2 separate regions of the Homo sapiens genome follow, and region 1 is linked to region 2. The links come from fine-mapping of genetic effects on gene expression. A gene starts in region 2. The other region holds a variant in brackets. All regions are shown on one strand. Distances are from middle to middle.

The links.
Region 1: its variant is fine-mapped to the expression of RDX in whole blood (TOPMed, PIP 0.98).

The regions. Positions count from the first base shown.
Region 1 is chr11:110,228,772-110,234,302 of GRCh38, forward strand. It overlaps RDX (radixin), which reads right to left. Exons shown (of 14, transcript NM_002906.4): 13 at 4,466-4,708; 14 at 670-3,262. The coding sequence ends at 3,098. Among named protein-coding and RNA genes, the nearest start is that of RDX, 65 kb to the right of the region's middle. The variant GA/G (reference allele first, on the strand shown) is at 2,174.
Region 2 is chr11:110,294,448-110,299,447 of GRCh38, forward strand. RDX (radixin) reads right to left here and starts at 2,167. Exons shown (of 14, transcript NM_002906.4): 1 at 2,020-2,167. RefSeq lists an enhancer at 1,264-2,136 and silencers at 1,350-1,409, 1,540-1,639, 1,650-1,699, 1,750-2,549.

The DNA.
Region 1 (5,531 bases), 65 kb before region 2:
AACTTTATAAGGGGCCATTCCAGTTCTTAAAACTCTAATTAGACATAAAGCAAAATATTATTTAAAATTCCATTTTCTGACAGGATCAGAGTAAAAAAATCACTATGTGTCCTTGAGAACAGAAATAATAAAGTGACAGTTAAATATTACTATCAACAAAAAAATCTAGCTTTTACTATTTTTATAGATTTATCACTTATTTAAGTTAAAAATTAGTAAGAAGACTTGAAAAAGGCAATTTCTAGATTTATAGTAACTGTTCTATAATACAGCTTCAAAATAAGAACATGTACTTACATAAATATACTTAGCATACAGTTCTTTAAAGAATGTTGAAATGTTAATAGTGAGATCAATCAATGACAAGAAACTGTATCTTCCTCAGGAAAAAGAAACTAACCACTATACAATAAAGGCAATGACTGGAAACCCTAAATTACGTTTTGTTGTCAACAAAGTCAATTTAATTTAATAATTTAACTTTTCCACAGAATTAATCACTATTACTTCCATACCAAAGAGGTATCGGGGAAAGAGTAGATCTATGAGGATTTAAAATTATTTCCTATCTACTTCTTACTTTTAAGTTGTGGTGATTCATGGCTGTGATAAAGATTGTAATTTTCAAGAAACATACAAAAAATCCATGTTAAATAACAACAGTGGACCTTGAAGGCATGAGCTTTTGTCACTTTATTGTTAACCAATGAATATTATCCAAAATTAGAGATGTAATTGTAACTTAATTGTACAACACAAAATTATGCTAATGGTAAAAGCCTACTGGGATTTACCAAATACTCATTAGTGTATTTTTACATTGACTATATGAACATGTGCTCGCGACTGCTAATAAGTTATAATTGGTTTAATCTCTAAGAAATCCATATTGCAAATGGTTCTTGTTTAGAAAAATTCACACAGCCTTAAAAATGGATTAAATCCATTTTAATCCTAATCTACAAATAGATCATAAACAGCAAAATATAACTGATAATTTTTCAATACTGTATCAAACTGATGTAGCTATGGTAGTGCACATAATTCAAAATGAGGAAAATTAACAAAAATCCAATGAAAGTTCAGGTTTTTATCTATTATGCAATTGCTTTAAAGTGAACATTTATGTCTCAAAACATGAATAGTAGGGTCCACCATCCATTCCTTTGATGTACTGCAAGTAGGAATATTCTCTTCCATAGGATTCTGAAGCATGTGCACAACCATGGTACAACAGTCACTTCAAGGTTAACCAGCTATGTTTTGTCCTACAAAGTTCAAAAAATATATTAAACGCAACCTTTCTTTTACATAATGTCTGCCCAGATTAATCCTTTTAAAGTCAGCAAAATCAAAAAAGCACAAGAGATATTTTCAGACACAACTTGAATCTACTGTGCATGAAAATGTTTAATAAAATGGCAATTTTAATAGATAAATGTAAATTTGACTGTGTAATACCAAATGGAAAGTAGCTGAACCACACAGAGAAAACAAGGCTTTACGTATCTCCAAATTTAGCTGTTTTACAATAAACAAAGTATTAGAACATGTGAATATTAGAACCTCCTTCTAACTGGAAAGATTTCTTCAGTAAGCTATAACCGAAATTAATATAAACTAAAATTATAATTTCTAAAATAAGAATTAACAAACCAAATTTAAGTATTTTTAGTCAGAGATTGAAACAAAATAAGCACAGTGATCTAGAAACCAAATATACTGATTATGTAACTATCGTATCAAGGTACAGACATTCTTCACATGCTACAAGGTTAGCATTTCTCTCTCTCATACACACACAGAGTACACACACACACACACACACACACACACACAGTCTCTCTCTCATTCTCTCTCTCTCTTGCTCAGCCATACAACACCCCTCCAGGATGATAGTATACCAGTGAGGAGCTTACAATTTTAATACAAATCAGAATCCCACAGTTTGACTCGACAAAAAGGCAGTTAAAAATTTAGCACTCTTAAGATATTCTGAAGGAAAATGAAATTTCGAAAGTATTTCTTGATGATCGAGGCTATGGTTATGAATTATAAAACATATACCTTACACACTCCATTGTGTTTGAACAACCAGTCATCACAGATGTAGTAGTGAGGTAGTATTGTTGTCCCCTCCTCGGGACTGATGTTTTTATATGCTGCCCTTCCA[GA/G]AAAGGTCCAGGTTTTAAAAAATAACATTAGTTACCAACAAATGTATATTTTCTTTTTTTAACTAATCATTTGTTTTTCTAAATCAGTCTATAAAAGAACAAAACTTTTAAAATCTTGCAGAGGCTGTTTCATCAGTAAACTCTCCTAGGGAGCTACTACTGCTGTCTAAACCTCTGTGAAATGGTAGGCAAAAAAAGCCATCAAAGGATCACAGGAGATAAAACACCAATCAGTGTAAGCTGTTAAAGATGACTGTGATTAAATAACCAAATATCAAATATCCAATAAGGTAATTAAATTTAGATTAAAAAAAAACTAAGCACCAGCTGTACATACATTATTAAATGTTCTAATCTCTTTCCTGATTCATAGCCATATTCTACATGATGATCAAAGACTGTCCACTGTGCTACCTACCATCATTTTAAACACTGCCTGATCTGTATGATGGTGGAATTATGGCTATGGACATGGCAGATAAGAGAAGGGCACACTGAGAAAATGTGAGTGAGAGAGAATGTGGAAATAGGTTAAATATGGAAAGGGCAAGGGAAACCCATTAAAATGTTCACCATTATCCTTTAAAATGTACACAGAACTGAAACCACACATACACATTTGTCAGACGTGATAATTAGTGTTAATCTTCAACAGAAAAAAAAAAGAAAAAGAAAAAAAATGTGAAAAGAGGCAATGGAACACCATTCTCCATTCCCTGGACCAAAAGAAAAAAGAAAACCAAGCATGATATCATACTGCCTTAATGTTGAAGAGCTCCCCTTAAATTTGTCTTTTAGCTAGCACAGTCAAACTGGTGTAAGTGCTTTGGCAAGGTGGGATGCATTCCATCATATCTGCAAAGGCCTGCTTTTCTCTGTTGGTGGTTCAGCTTATGAAGAACATATATGCAAAATAACAGCTCTCACATTGCTTCAAACTCATCGATACGCTGCTTTGTATTGCCTTGTCGAATCTGTCGCAGAGTCTTGTACTTATCACGGCCTGCTTTAACATTCTCAGCATGAAGAACATCATTTTGTGTTTTCTTGGTTTCATCTCTGGCTTGGGCTAATTCTGAACTTAATGCCTATTTAAAAAATAAAAAGTACAACTATTATTTTTTTCTTAGATTTAAAAAAATTTATGAAAATGGCTTTAAGATGCAAAAATACATATACCAAATCATTTCCACTGTGAAACCTTTTTCTTTAGGTATAAGTTTGTTTTAGTAATAGTGGTGGCAGTGGTAAGGGAGGAATACACATGGCCTTTCCACATTTATCAACCATGGTATTTTGTACATTATTCTAAATTTCCTTAACTTTCTAATCTAATACTTGAAATGGCTAAAAAGTTCAATGTAGCCATTACAGACTAATATTACTATGAGATTTAAAATCTATACCTCAAGGGAAGCCTTCTCCAAAAGTCTTAATACATTTATTGTAACTATCACCTCATTTTCTTTTAATATTTAAAGATTTTAACAATTAAAATATTAGATAACTTATTGGGAAAAAAGAAAGCTCATAATATTAAAATCCTCTACTTTGACCTAGTTATGTCCATGTAATATACTGACCTTTTGCCAATATAAAATCTCAACAAATAATTAAGATTATGTAATGTCTTAAACATAGTATATTAACTATCATTCTTTCCAATGTACATTTTATTTTATTTTATTTTTTTGAGACAGAGTCACTTACTATTGTCCAGGCTGAAGTGCAGTGGCATGATCTCGGCTCACTGCAACCTCCACCTCCCAGGTTCAAGCAATACCTCAGCCTCCCAAGTAACTGGGATTACAGGCTCATACCACCATACCCGGCTAATTTTTGTATTTTTGGTAGAGGCAGAGTTTCACCATGTTGGCCAGGCTGGTCTTGAACTCCTGGCCTCAGGCAGTCCACCTGCCTCGGCCTCCCAGAGTGCTGGGATTACAGGTGTGAGCCACTGCGCCTGGCCCTCAATGTACATATTACTGATCAAAAACTAAATTCACGTTTTTCAACATGACATTAGAATACTTTCTACCTTTTAAAATGGGTCAAGCTGTAATTAAATAACTCACTAGTTAAGGTCTGATTATACAAAGCTAACAGGTATTTGCTAATGGGTTCACACAACGGAAGAAATGAAATAACATGACTATAGGCCAAACACCCACAAACCAATCACAAGGGCAGCCAGTATTAAAACTTCTATATTCTTTTTAACTAAGTTTGTCTAAGATGGGGAAAATGCAAACTATATTTCAAATGCACATACAACTGCAAATTTTAAATACCTGAAGTTGCTTCTTAACACGCTCATTTTTCTGTGTTTCGGTTACACGTTCTTCCTCGCTTCTATGGTTCATTACCCCTTCATTTGATAATTCAGCACTAGCTTCAGCATTATTCTCATCGTGTTCATCATGTTCGTTTTCTGTTGGAGGAATGACTGGTGGTGGTGGAGGTGGAGGGGGGGCAGACATCACAGTTTTTAACTCTTCTTTGGTCTTTTCCAAGTCTTCCTGGGCTGCAAAAGCCTGAACATTAAAAATACGTTTATGAGCAACTTACTTCAAAAATTAATAATCAAAACAATCAAGTTATACTCCCTTTTTAATAGAAACTGTATTTCAAGGTAATGAAAATAGGCCCTATTTATGAAACCTCTATTTTCATAAAAGAATGTCAACAGGTAAAAGAGAAAATCAAAAACATTATTATGCAAACCCTATTAGAATTACTCTGTGAGCTTCAAAGTGACAGATTAAAAGAAAAACAAGCATACATGCAAAAAAAGAACTATTAATTCTGGCAAGGATTATCAATTGTTTGCTAAAACTGTTGTGCAAATAGTTGATGAGAAATAGATATTCATATAATGCCTAAGAATCTCACACCCAATAGATTTTATTTGAGCCACAAGGGGAAAATGTAACCGAATAACGGAGGAATGAGACTGTCGTTACTCAAATCCAATGATCACTAAAAAATACTAATGGTGAGTTAACTAGATATTAAGTGTCTTCTGATATGATACAACCTGAAATATCTAACATCACCAATTATTTGGGTGATCATATTATCTTGGTTTACCTGGAAAAGTCCTGTTACACTGTTGTCCTGGTGTAATTATGAACAATACCCCCTTTTTCTCAAAAGTACTCCAGTTTAGATGTTCAATTATATGGAAGTCTCACCTTTGATGCACTGTAGTCAAAACATTTAATTTGAATTCCCCAGGTTCTAGATCTAACTTCTGGTTCAAAGGAAATACTGGAGTTAAAGGATAAGGTCAATGACACAAGGAAGTAACTAAACAAATATAGGAGGTGAGACATTCTGTAGGTCCCTTCAATAAAT
Region 2 (5,000 bases):
TTTGACTCTAGCTCTTTAGAGGATCTAAAGTGACCTTGATGGACAGTGGAAGAAATCACAACATGGAATTCCTTGAGTAAAAATTTATCGACTTAAAAAAAAAATCCAATTCTGCTTTTGGGAACAGTGAACCAATAAACAAAAGACAACGCGTTCCCCATCCCGGAGACTAATGAGACTCAGCAAGGGAGGGAAACAACAGCAAAGTCTGTCATTTCTTACCAACAAAAGGAAAGTAATCAATTTGACTTTCAGTTAATTAATCACAATTTCAAAAAAAAAAACAAAAGGACAGACTCAACGTATTTTCCCTACACCCAAATTAATTACATCTATTCTACAGCTACTTCTGAGACTCTCCTACATACTCTTCCATGTGTGGGGATACAGGAGTGAACAAAACATTGTATGTGATTCCTAAGGTCAAGAACTCAACGTTTTTTCAATGCCACAATCAAATTCTGTCTCATTTAAATAAAACTGTAAAGAATGCCAATGTCTATTCATTCCTTGCTAATAATATACCAACTGTTTATTAAATTCCATCATATATAAAAAAGCGATTAAGCAAAGAAAGTCACTGCAATCGTCTTTACAGCATACGATTAACTTCAAAAGGAGTGTTTTACATGTTGCTGTATTTGAAGGAAAGTATTATTAATCTCTGGAAGATAAAGCACACTGGGGAAAGCAAAGAAATTCTGAAAATAAAAAACTGCAATCCTGAATATTAGTCTCCTTTCTCAAATCCAGTGATGCTGTTTTGGCAAATGGATCAAGCCATTATTTATCCAGCAACATGAACGGGGTAATTGTTCCTTCTTAGCTCCATCAGTCATATAAAAGAGTATTTAGTGTTCTAAAAAAAAAAAAAAAAAAAGAAGTATGCTCCTTAAACAATAGATTACAATGTCTATGTCAAAGTACTCGTTTATCAAATAAACCCTTATTATCTTAGACTTTTATATTTACATCCTGCCAGTCTTAGTGCCACAAGAATGCCATCGAGTTCCTCAGCAACGTGTCTTCCACCAAAATCTCAAATGTATTTTAAAATATATTTTTATGAAGTTGACTTTTAACACATTTCCAACCTAGTAACTACTCTTTAAGGAAAAAAAAAAACCACCAAATATTGGGAATGTCTGAAGAAACATGACATCTGTCTAGGAAGTGATGTAGTCTGTTTAAACTGAAAAAAAAAAAAAAACAAAAATGCACTGCCCCCTTTCAAAGTTAGTCCGGGAATTGAGTTTAGAATCCTTTAAAGGAAAAGAGGGATATCATGTACTGAACTTGTCTGGTGGGGTCTGAGACACTAAAACTGAGCGGCCTCAAGGGCCCGAGAAAGTTACAGGGCTCCGAGAGCTGCAACAGCAGCAGGTAGAGCTGCGGCCGGGAACCGCGGCCCTGGCCTGGCGGGTGCGAGCGGCGGGAGCGACTGGCGCCCCAAAGCCTGTCATGCAACATCCCCTTTGCCACTGGGGCGGAACGCACGCTCTCTAGTAATTTAACACCCCTCCTTTCAAACTGGAGGCCGGGGAACAAGTTCTAATAAATGTAAAATCGAATTCTACCTACGCTGAATATCTGGATTTTCAAACAACCCTTGGGACCATGCCAGCCCGGGCCCGGGGCCCAGTCCAGGCAGCGGGAGCCCACCGTCCCCAGGGCGCTGGGGGTCCGACACCGGCGCTGAAGGCAGACTCCGCGCCCCGAGGAAAGGAGAATCCCGCGGCGGCGAAGGTCGACTTTGGCCCGGCCAGGCACGTTCGGGCCGCGGCTCAGCCACGACTCGGGCAGGGCCTCGCGGCCCCTACCAGCCCCGGGAGGAGCCTGGCCGGCCGGGCCGTTACCACAGTGGCGCCTCGGCCAGCTGGGCGCGAGCGGAGGCGCGCCAAGCCCTGGCGGCGGCGCCACGGCCGGGCAGCACGGGCCCCGCAACTTCGCGCCGCCACCTTAGCGTCTCCGGAGGAACCGGGAGCGGGGAGTGGGGGAAGGGAGGGCGCCGCGCCTTACCCGGAGAGCGGGCGGCTTCTGCCCGCCGGCGTGTGGCTGGGGCGCTGCGCGGCGGCGCGGCTGCGACAGGGAGGGAGAAGCGGTGGTGCGAGCGCTGGCCCGCGGGAGACGAGAGGCGCCGCCGCCACCGCAGACAGCTCCGCAATATGGCCGCTCGGCGCCTCCGCGGGAAAAGGCGGGGCTGCCCGGCGCCCCCCCGCCTCCCCCTGCCGGCCGGCCGTCCTCGCGCCGCGGACTGAGCGCCAACGCCGCCGCTGGGGGCCGCCCCCGCCCCGCCCCTCCCGCAGGCTCGCAGCCGCAGGCCTGGCTCCGGGCGTGGCCGGGGGTCGCGGTCTGGGGCCGGCCAACGCGAGGTGGGTGGCTGCGGGCTCGGGAGCGCCCAGGGAAATAGGGCGAATGCGCCGGAGGGTCGAGCCCTTCCAGAGAGCGCTGGGCTCCAGCTAAACCTGCGGTCGAGGGAAGCGGAGCCGCCCAGCCCAAAGCTCGGAGTGTGCCCGCCGCCTCCCCAACGAGTGGAAACTTGAAACTCCCGCTGGTGCCAGCAAACTCACTGAGGGCGTTGCCGTCGCCCCCAGAGGAGGAATTCTTCCCAGAGGGAGCCGGGGACCAAATGAAGCGTGAGACTTGGCTGTTAGGTTTGAAGATCCTGGACTGGGAAGGAGAAAAGGGCCTACCTGAGCGGAATTTAGATTTGCAACAAAGAACGTTTACATTATTTTGGCAGGTTTTAGCCAACTAGAAAAACTTAATTTTTCAGCGACAATTTTCAAACTTCACCAAAACCTCAATGGATAAGACCCCAAATCAGGAGTGCAAATTTTAATCCAAGCAAGGATGTGTGATAATTTTTTATTACCAACGACATGCTTTGGCAGTTGGAAGGAGTTGGTTAGCAAGAAAAAGTTGGAAGTAGGGCCCCAAAGAGCCGCCAAACCTACATAATTCTAGATTTAGAGAAAGTTAGGCATTCGATCTTAAGACTAAGTCTAGCCCACTCACTTTAGTTAGTGGCTGGGATGAGACAGGAAGCTCCTGACTTCTGGATCAGTCTTCTGTCATCTAATCCATGCTGAGTCCCCTCAGTATTGTCTGCTGGGATGATTCAGGGAGCAAAACTTGCTATGAGTATACAAACAGCAAGCGCACAAAATCAGATTCGCCTGGCTTGCCCTGTTTGCAATACTTTTTTTAGCTTATCTTTTGTGAACAAACTTTAGATTCAAATAACAAAACGCCTGAGTATACTTACTTTTATAGGACAAATAACTCCTATACTTCCTGCCTTAGCATTTACCTTAGGTGAGACAGTAGCTTTTCCAGGAAATATCTGCAAATCACTTTCACTAGCCTGCCTCTTCAGTGAGTTTCCACTATTGCCCTTTGAGACCTCTCCGAACAATTAAAAGCCCCCAAGAGACTCAAGGGTTAAACTCAAGGGCCTTTAGATAGCAAATTCCTCAAGGATGGGAACCAGGTGTGTGACTTGCGACCAAATAGGTTCTTGTGGTTCTTAGGGACCACCAAAAGATCACTCCTTACCTCTCCCTAGGGTGCAAGAATTATCCTGGTTATTGTTCAGCCTACCACATCAGGTTGCAGGCATAGTCAAAGTATTACGTAATACTTCCCATGAAGTAGGTAAGAAAAAAAAGTATTATGTAAATTCCTACATAGTACACTAATCAAATGAAATTATATAACACACTTTTGCAACTGAAAGTGAAGGATTCACTGTTGTTGGTCAGGTGCCAGACACTGGTGTGAAATTCTTTTACATGACTGTCTCTTTTAATGGTTACAAAAACCCTCTGGGATAAATACTATTATTGACCCTTTAAAAAAAATCGATGAATAAGACAGCTTAAAAAGAGGTAAGTAATTTCCCCAATGTAACAAAACTAGGAAGTGGCAGAGCAGTGACCAAACCCAAATATATGTTTGACTCCAAAAGCCTTGATTTTATCCTATCTTCTGCAACAGCAAACAGACCAAAAATTGCAACATTTTAGTTGGGTATCCTATTAGTAAATATTTAAGTGAAAGATAACAGTCAAGGCTGGTGAGATAAAAAGGGTACTCTCAGACATGGTGAGTGGGAGTGTAAACTGAAATAATCTCTTTATAAAGCTATTTGGCACTGTGATTCAACCCCTAAGAACTTTCATGGCAGGGCATGGTGGCTCATGCCTGTAATCCCCGCACTTCCTGGGAGGCTGAGGCGGGCAGAGCATGAGGTCAGGAGACCGAGACTATCCTGGCCAACATGGTGAAACCCCGTCTCTACTGAAAATACAAACCTCAGCTGGGTGTGGTGGCACACGCCTGTAATCCCAGCTACTTGGGAGGCTGAGGCAGGAGAATGACTTGAACCCGGGAGGCAGAGATTGCAGTGAGCCGAGATCATGCCACTGCACTTCAGCCTGGCAACAGAGCGAGACTCCCTCTCAAAAAAAAACAAAGCAAAAAAACAAAAAGAATGTTCATAACTGGCCAGTGCTGAAGCTCACACCAGTAATCCCAACACTTTGGGAGGCTGGGGCGGGAAGGTCGCTTGAGCCCAGGATTTTCAAGACCAGCCTGATCAAAATAGTGAAACCCCATCGCTACAAAAAAAATTATAAAAATTAGCCAGGCATGGTGGCATGTCTGTAGTCCTAGCTATTCAGGAGGCTGAAGAGTCAGAAGAATCCCTTGAGCCCAGGAATTTGAGGCTGCAGTGAGCTGTGATTGTCAAAGGCGTTGACCACAGAGTGACTCCATCTTGAATAGGGGCTGGGTAAAATAAGGCTTAGACCTGCTGGGCTGCATTCCCAGGAGGTTTGGCATTGTAAGTCACAGGATGAGATAGGAGGTCAGCACAAGATACAGGTCATAAAGACCTTGCTGATAAAACAAGTTGCAGTAAAGAAGCCAGCCAAAATCTACCAAAACCAAGATGGCAATGATGGTGATCTCTGGTCATCCTCACTGCTCATTTTATG